Linked DNA regions of Homo sapiens. The protein of the gene in region 1 purifies or fractionates together with the protein of each later gene. This does not show direct contact. Each region holds a gene or a part of one and is shown in the gene's direction. Other genes may lie near its edges.

Evidence for each region.
Region 2: the proteins of AIFM2 (region 1) and SPECC1L purify together in Homo sapiens (affinity purification with mass spectrometry; one large-scale study listed by BioGRID and IntAct). This does not show direct contact.

The regions. Positions count from the first base shown.
Region 1 is NC_000010.11:70,119,055-70,122,871, reverse strand, and holds part of AIFM2 (ferroptosis suppressor protein 1), read left to right. Parts: intron 1-1,660; coding exon 1,661-1,780; intron 1,781-2,272; coding exon 2,273-2,365; intron 2,366-3,817. UniProt on the Homo sapiens protein: A NAD(P)H-dependent oxidoreductase that acts as a key inhibitor of ferroptosis.
Region 2 is NC_000022.11:24,277,025-24,280,841, forward strand, and holds part of SPECC1L (cytospin-A), read left to right. Parts: intron 1-3,817. UniProt on the Homo sapiens protein: Involved in cytokinesis and spindle organization. May play a role in actin cytoskeleton organization and microtubule stabilization and hence required for proper cell adhesion and migration.

The DNA.
Region 1 (3,817 bases):
ACGTAAGTCTCATGAATGTTTACCGTGCCTCTATGGCGAAGGTGGTATAACTTCATTTTACAGAGAAGCTAAAGGGTTAAATGGCTTGCTTAAGATCCCACAGCTGGTAAGAGACTGAACTAGGATTTGAACCCATGCAATTTTAGCCCAGAGCCCATGCTCTAAAAGCCAGCGTCCCAGACAACTCCCAGGCCTGGCCAGCCCTCGGCTCTGTCTAGAACAAAAAGGCACACGCATGGTCCCACATCCCCCGGATCGGGACGTCACTGGGGCAGAGGTTTCCCTTCACTCATTTGTGTGTTCCCCCACCTCACATGTGCATCATGGAGCCTGGAACACACCTGCCATGACTTCAGCTCCATCGATAAGCTGCCACCAGCTCTGGATGAGTGTCATGTCCAGCCCAGCCCCATTTGGTGTTTGAAGCTAAGGGGGCGTTGACAAAAGGAAACACAATTCCTTTCCTTGATGAGTTGTGATTTCGTGTGACCCAGCCCTTCTTGAATTAATGGGGCCAGATAGTTTCCTGGTTGGAAAGATTACTGAGTGTCCCCTGGTCCTGCAGTCTCCAGCCATGCGTTTCAGAGCCCTGGAAGATTCCATGAGGGCATCTTGGAGGTTCAGGGGAAAGTAGGGGCTGAGTGGAGTCCAGGCCCTCCAGCCCCTCCCATTGGAGCAGCTCTGTTTTTGTCAACTTTATATATTTAGGCTCCAAACAAGATTTCCTTTTCTTTGTTTACAATTTTTTTAATTAAAAAAAAATTTTTTTAATTGTTTTTGAGATGGAGTTTCGCTCTTGTTGCCCAGGCTGGAGTGCAATGGCATGGTCTCGGGTCACCACAACCTCTGCCTCCCAGGTTCAAGCGATCCTCCTGCCCCAGCCTCCTGAGTAGTTGGGATTACAGGCGCATGGCACCACGCCCAGCTAATTTTTGTATTTTTAGTAGAGATGGGATTTTGCCATGTTGATCAGGTTGGTTTCAAACTCCTGACCTCAGGTGATCCGCCCGCCTTGGTCTCCCAAAGTGCTGGGATTACAGGTGTGAGCCACTGTGCCCGGCCTAAAATTTTTTTTATTTTTAATTTAAAAAAATTAAATTATTTTTTAATAAAATATTTAATAAAAATTAAATTATTTTATTATTTATTTTTAATTTAAAAATTAAATTAATATGGGGTCTTGGTATGTTGCTCAGTGCAGTGGCTGTTCACAGATGTGATGCCACTACTGATCAGTCTTTCTTTCTTTCCCTTTCTTTTCTTCCTGGCGGAGGCAGGAGGAGGGTTCTTCTAAAACACCCGGGAGGTTCTGAGCTAACTCCCGTGGGCAGTGTCCTATCCTGCAGCCCTGCCTCCTGCTTCCAGGCACCCCTCCCACTGCCATGCTGGGTGGCTCCAGTTGCCCCCACATTCTCCACGCGGAGGTAAACTCTACTTCCTTAGGTCTTTCCCCAGGTTCTAGTGCCATCCTTTGGGCTAACCAGTGTGGTGGTTTCACCCCCTCCCATGGGGGCTGCCTCGGGTGCCTAGAGGGGCCTCTTTGCCTGGTTTGTCCCGGCTGGCAGGCCGGGAGTAGGATGCAGAGGCCTAGGCCTGCCCTGCCCTGCCCTACCCTCATCTTTTTTTTTTTTTTTTTTTTTTTTTTTTTGGTTTCTCTCAGGCCCTGCCCTTCTCTCATCTTATCCTGGCCACGGGCAGCACTGGGCCCTTCCCGGGCAAGTTTAATGAGGTTTCCAGCCAGCAGGCCGCTATCCAGGCCTATGAGGACATGGTGAGGCAGGTGAGCTGTGCACTGAAGGCATGGGGCAGTGTGGGCAGATGGAAGGACAGCCTTGGGGATGCCTAGGCCTGCAGCTGGGAGGCCACGGGGTTACTCAGAGCTGCTGGCTGTAGCCATAGAGTTGGAGAGTCACTAGGAAGAGACTTTCCTGGGAAGAGACCTTGAACTTGCTGCTGGAGCCAGGATGTGAGCACCCTAAACCTGCTCATGTTGCCCTTGGTATGTCTCTGACTTTCCTCTCCTGGGGCTTTTCACGGGTCCCTTCCACTCCTGTTTTCATAAGGCTCTGTTTTGTAGAGCAGGCTTAGATCCACAATCTTCCACAGCAATTCTGCGAGGTGGGTGGGAGGAAGCACGTTTGGACTCAAAATGTGGAAAGGGTTCTCTGCCCTCCTTTGGCCCAGGGAGCCACACCACAGGCTGAACCAGCAGACAGAGGTGGATGTGTAGGTGTGTTTCATATGTCCCTGTTTCACATGTCCTCTTCTCCAGGTCCAGCGCTCACGGTTCATCGTGGTGGTGGGAGGAGGCTCGGCTGGAGTGGAGATGGCAGCAGAGATTAAAACAGAATATCCTGAGAAAGAGGTGAGCCAGGCTGCCTTGCCTTGGAGCTCTAAGTGGTTGGCTTTTTTCTGCATTATCTTAGGAACATCAGGAATTTGCTCAGGGCAGAGAAGTCTGGAGCTCTATTCACATAAACTGGGAGTGTGTATTTCTGTTTTGTGCCAAGGTGTGATTCTATAGGGGATTTTTCCTGCAGAGCTGGGATCCTGCTGCACCTGACCTTACGGAGCTGCTCAGGGTGTGTCCTTTCTCAAGGAAAGGTCCTGCCCTCTGCTCCAACTTGGAGGATCAAGCCCAGGGGCAATACCTTGCAAAAGCGGAACTTCTGTGTCACCTTCAGAATTCAGGCCTTTGTGATACAAATGTATATTTGATTACCTCTTGCTGGCAACCAGTATTTGATTACCTCTTGCTGGCAACCAGCTTGGACAAAGACACCTTCAGTTGTTGCTTTGGTCTCTGCCTGATATGGTAGCCCCTGCTCTGAGCAGCCCCATGGTGGTGGGGAGCCTGCAGCAGAGCCCTTTCTGCCCACGCTGGGCAATGACTGAACAGCACTGCCTTCTGCCCATGGGTGGGAACGGGGAGGGGACATCAGCCTGCCCTGTTGCTTTCTCATGCTCAAAAGACAGAGATCCTACCGGGCAACCTAGCGAGAAAGAGGAAATCCTGGCACCCTGTCCAGGCTTGGCAAGGGCTGAGTGAGAAACGTCCTTACAGGTCCTCTAGGCGAGAGCTTGCTTGCGGTTGAAGCCAGATCGGCTTCTGAGAGCCATGTGGGGCCTCTGAATGGATCTTTCTTCCTCAGGGAAAGGCAGGTTGGTTTTGAAAAGAAAAATCAATAGAGGATAACTTAATTATATGGCTGTTCTCTGACAAATTGTTGGAAATTATGATGAGTGATTGATCTAGTTACATTCATTCATTTTGATGTATGAGGGTTCTATAGGGAAAAACCAAACTGTTTTTCTCCCTACTCACTCCACACTTCTGGGATAAGATGTGTGGGTTTTTCCCCCACTGACCAATTCTCTGACACCAGCTGGGTGTCCTACGGTTCAATTCAATTCTGACACTACCTGGCGTTAGCGCAGACCCCACAGGTCAAGGGCTCAGTCCCACGATCCTGCCCCGACTTCAAACACCAGTTGCAAGTCCATAGGTCCCCAGCTTACCCACGCTTCTGTCCCACTTGGCTACAAGATAGAGATTCTCATGACTCTCTCCTTGGGTTAAATAATTTGCTAGAGCAGCTGATGGAAGCCAGGGAGACAGTTTACTTGCTGTTGCTGATTTATGACGAAGGATGTTTTAAAGGATAAAAATGAACATTCAGATGAAGGGGCACATAGGGCGTGGTCTAGAAGGGTCCTGAGCACAGGGGCTTCTGTCCCCATGGAGTTGGGGTGCATCACTGTCCTGGCATGTGGACATGTTCACCAACCTGGAAGCTCTCTGAACCCTGTACTTTAG
Region 2 (3,817 bases), on another chromosome or scaffold:
CCTTCTGCATTTTCTGCAAATTCTGTTGAATCATTGCAGTTACTTAGGTTTGCTTCGTCTCCCCCATTACAAACTACTTACTGGGTTTTTCAACCCTAGTTCCCTCATTTTTATGATTTATGCTCATTTCTTTGTACACTTCGTCTTGCTCCATCTCCCAACTCATGGCCCCTGGCTTTGGATTATTGTTTTGGTCTTTTATTTTTTGTCTTCTTCTACCTCAACACTTATCTTCCTCTCCCAGTCTCCGGTACCCTATCACCAAGGTTGTCATTAACCTTTCATATTATTCCTCATTATCCATGTATTCATTTGCAAATAAGCGTATATTAACAAAATCACAGGTTTATGGAGATATAATTCACATACCTTAAAATTCAGGCTTTTAAAGTGTACCTTTCATGTGGTTTTTGGTATATTCACAAAGTTATGCATTGATCACCACCATCTGATTCCATAACATGTTCAATACCTCAAAAAGAAGTCTGTACTCATTAGTAGTCATTTCACATTCACCACTCCCTCTGGCTCTGGGCAGTCACTGATCTTTGTGTCTCTATGGATTTGCCTAGTCTAGGTATTTTTATGTAAATGGCATCATACAACATGTGACCTTTTGTTTGGCTTTTTTCATTTAGCAAAATGTTATCAAGGTCTGTCCCTGTTGTAGCATGTATTAGCACTTCATTTCTTATATGCTGAATGATATACTTTATTTGTCCATCAGTTGTTCATGCTTTATTTGTCCATCAGTTGATGAACATTTGCGTTTTTGCCACTTTGGGCTATTAAGAATAATGCTACTGTGAACAAGTGTGTACAAGTTCCTCTACAAATTTTTGTGTGGACATATCCTTTCAGTTCTCTCAGGTGTATATCTGGGAATTGAATTGCTGGGTCGTGTAGTAGCTATGTTAAACACTTTGAGAAACTGCTATAATGTTCTCCAGAGCTGTACCATTTTAAATTCTGTGTATGAGGATTCCACGTTCTCCACTTCCTCACCAGTGTATGGATTTGGGGGTATACTTTTTAAAAAGTGGGATTAGGCTGGGCACAGTGGCTCACACCTGTAATCCCAACACTTCAGGAAGCTGAGGTGGGAGGATCACTTGAGCCTAGTAGTTTGAGACCAGCCTGGGCAACATAGGGAGACCCTGTCTCTACAAAAAATAATTTAAAATAAATTAGCTGGGCGTTGTGGCACACACCTGTAGTCCCAGCTACATGGGAGGCTGAGGTGGAAGGATTCCCTGAGCCCAGAAGTTTGAGGTTGCAGTGAGCCATGATGGCAGCACTATACTGTAGCCTGGGTGTCAGAGCAAGACTCCGTTTCAGGGAAGAAAAAAAAAAGTGGGATGATATTTTTGACACTTTTCTTCTTGTTTTCTTAATTTCATACTTCTGGAAATTCCATTAAATTAGCTGGTACCACTCTAACTCATTGTGTTTCATGGCTGCATAGTAATATTGCATAATATAAATATACCATTCATTCATCAAAGTTAGCAGATATTGACTGTTAGGTGCCAGGCACTGCTCTAAGCGTTAAAGAAAAACACACAAAAACTTTTGCATTCTTAGAGTTTATTTTCCAATGGAGGGGGTGGAGGGAGGTAAGAATTTAGGAAATAAATTAATTACATATATAGCATAGGGTTTCACCAGTGAGTGCAGCTTGAATCGTTGGCAGCTTTCTTAGTAGTATAAATACAGTACTAAAGATGAAATTACTCTAAATGGTGTTACTTAAATTACTGGAATAGGTATTACTATTAGTCACTTTGCAGGTGAAAGTGGAAACACCATCGTAAAATGTAAAATAGGAAACAGCTGGTTAATGTGGATCTGGAGTTTTTCTAGGACATAAACTGATGAGCCAGAAAAGTAAATGTGTCAGTCCTTGGTAGCACAGTTTGTACGTTTATAAATTTTATCCAAATCCTCTTAATCTAGTGATTAATAGACACTCTTCACAAAAGGATGAGGGAGGTATATGTATATGTGTTGAAAGGTTCCGAAGGATGCAACCGAGAGTACTTCGGGGGACGTGGCAAAACTTCCAGGCCCATTCAAGAGTCTTGTTTTCTCCCTGAGCTTTTATGTATTTATTATATTGCCCTATTAATTATTGAGATTGTGCCTTACAGTAAAAGCTGCTTTAAATTGTTGACGCTATAATTTAAAATAATCTGGGTCACCTAGAGTGGTTAAACCTGGAAGAAAAGGATATCCTTCCTGCCAGGGCAGATTGTATGTAGATATGCAACCTGGTTGCGCCTGTGCTGACCTCTACTCTGTTGGGCCTGGAAGTATGCAGTTCAACGTTTCTCTTCTGATTTTTAAAAAAAATTTGACTTTGTTTACTTTTTATTTTATTTTAATTTAGAGACAAGGTTTCACTATTTTGCACAGGCTGGTCTCAAATTCCTGGGCTCAAGTGATCCCCTTGCCTCGGCCTCCCAAATACTGGGATTACAGGCATGAGCCACTGCACCTGGCCTTAACTTTGAAATGAAGTTAGAAATGTACATTTTATTTTTTTAATTATTATTATTATTATTTATTATTTTAGAAACAGGTCTAGCTCTGTTGCCCAGGTTGTAGGGCAACAATGGTGCAATCACAGCTCACTGCAGCCTCCACCTCCTGGGCTCAAGTGATTTTCATGCCTCAGCCTTCCGAGTAGCTGGGATTACAGGCATGTGCCACCATGCCCGGCTAATTTTTTGTATTTTTAGTAGAGACCAGGTTTCACCATGTTGCTCAGGCTGGTCTTCTGACCTCAAGTGATCTGCCCGCCTCAGCCTCCCAAAGTGCTGGGATTATAGGCGTGAGACACCACGCCCAGGTGAACAGAATAGTTTTCCATTCACCACAGTTTGTGACAGTCTCTACATTGTGAAGTGACAAGTTCTCTTCTATTTTCCTTCTGCCCCTCATCACCTTTTTCTTCCTCATTTCTTTTTTGAATTTTGCTGTCTTGAATTGATGTCTAAAGGATGACATAGCAGACAAGGGGACTGACACATGAACTCTCATGAGTTACTGAGGAGTTTCTCAGTGCTCTGTCTGCATCATCTGCTCACTCTCTCCTTCCTAGGTGCTAGCCTGCCAACCTGCTTTGAGAAATTGGAAATGAATTGGGGGGTAATCAGCCTCCCCTTGTACATGTAGGGACCGCATCTCCAATGCCTTGCTTTACATAATGACGAATGGTGTTTTGCTTACCTACTTCCACACAAACTGCTGATATGGTTAGGATTTGGGAAAGGGGAAGAAGGGAATTTTGGGTTTTGAGGAGTAGCTGGGGCTTGAACAAAGAAGAGGTAGTAATGAACATTCCTGGGGTGAGGCAATTAGTTAGCTGAGGGAGAAGAAGGCATATAATAAATTAGGGATTGACAGACTGTCTGTAAAGGGCCAGACAGTAAATGTTTTAGTCATTGAAGACCTTAAGGTCTCTGTTGCATCTAATCAACTCCATCATTGTAGTGCAAAAGTAACCACAGCCACTACAGATGTGAATGAATGTGACTATGTTTCAATAACATTTTTTTTTTTTTTTTTTTTGAGACAGTGTCACTCTGTTGCTCAGGCTGGAGGGCAGCAGTATGACCACAGCTTATTACAGCCCTGACTTCCCAGGCTCAAGTGATCCTCCCACCTCAGCCTTCCAGGTAGCTGGGACTATAGGCATTTGCCACCGCCCCCCATTAGTTTTTGTATTTTTTTGTAGAGGCGGCGTTTCACCATGTTGGCCAGGCTGGTCTTGAACTCCTGAACTTCTGGGCTCACGCTCTCCACCCTACTCGGC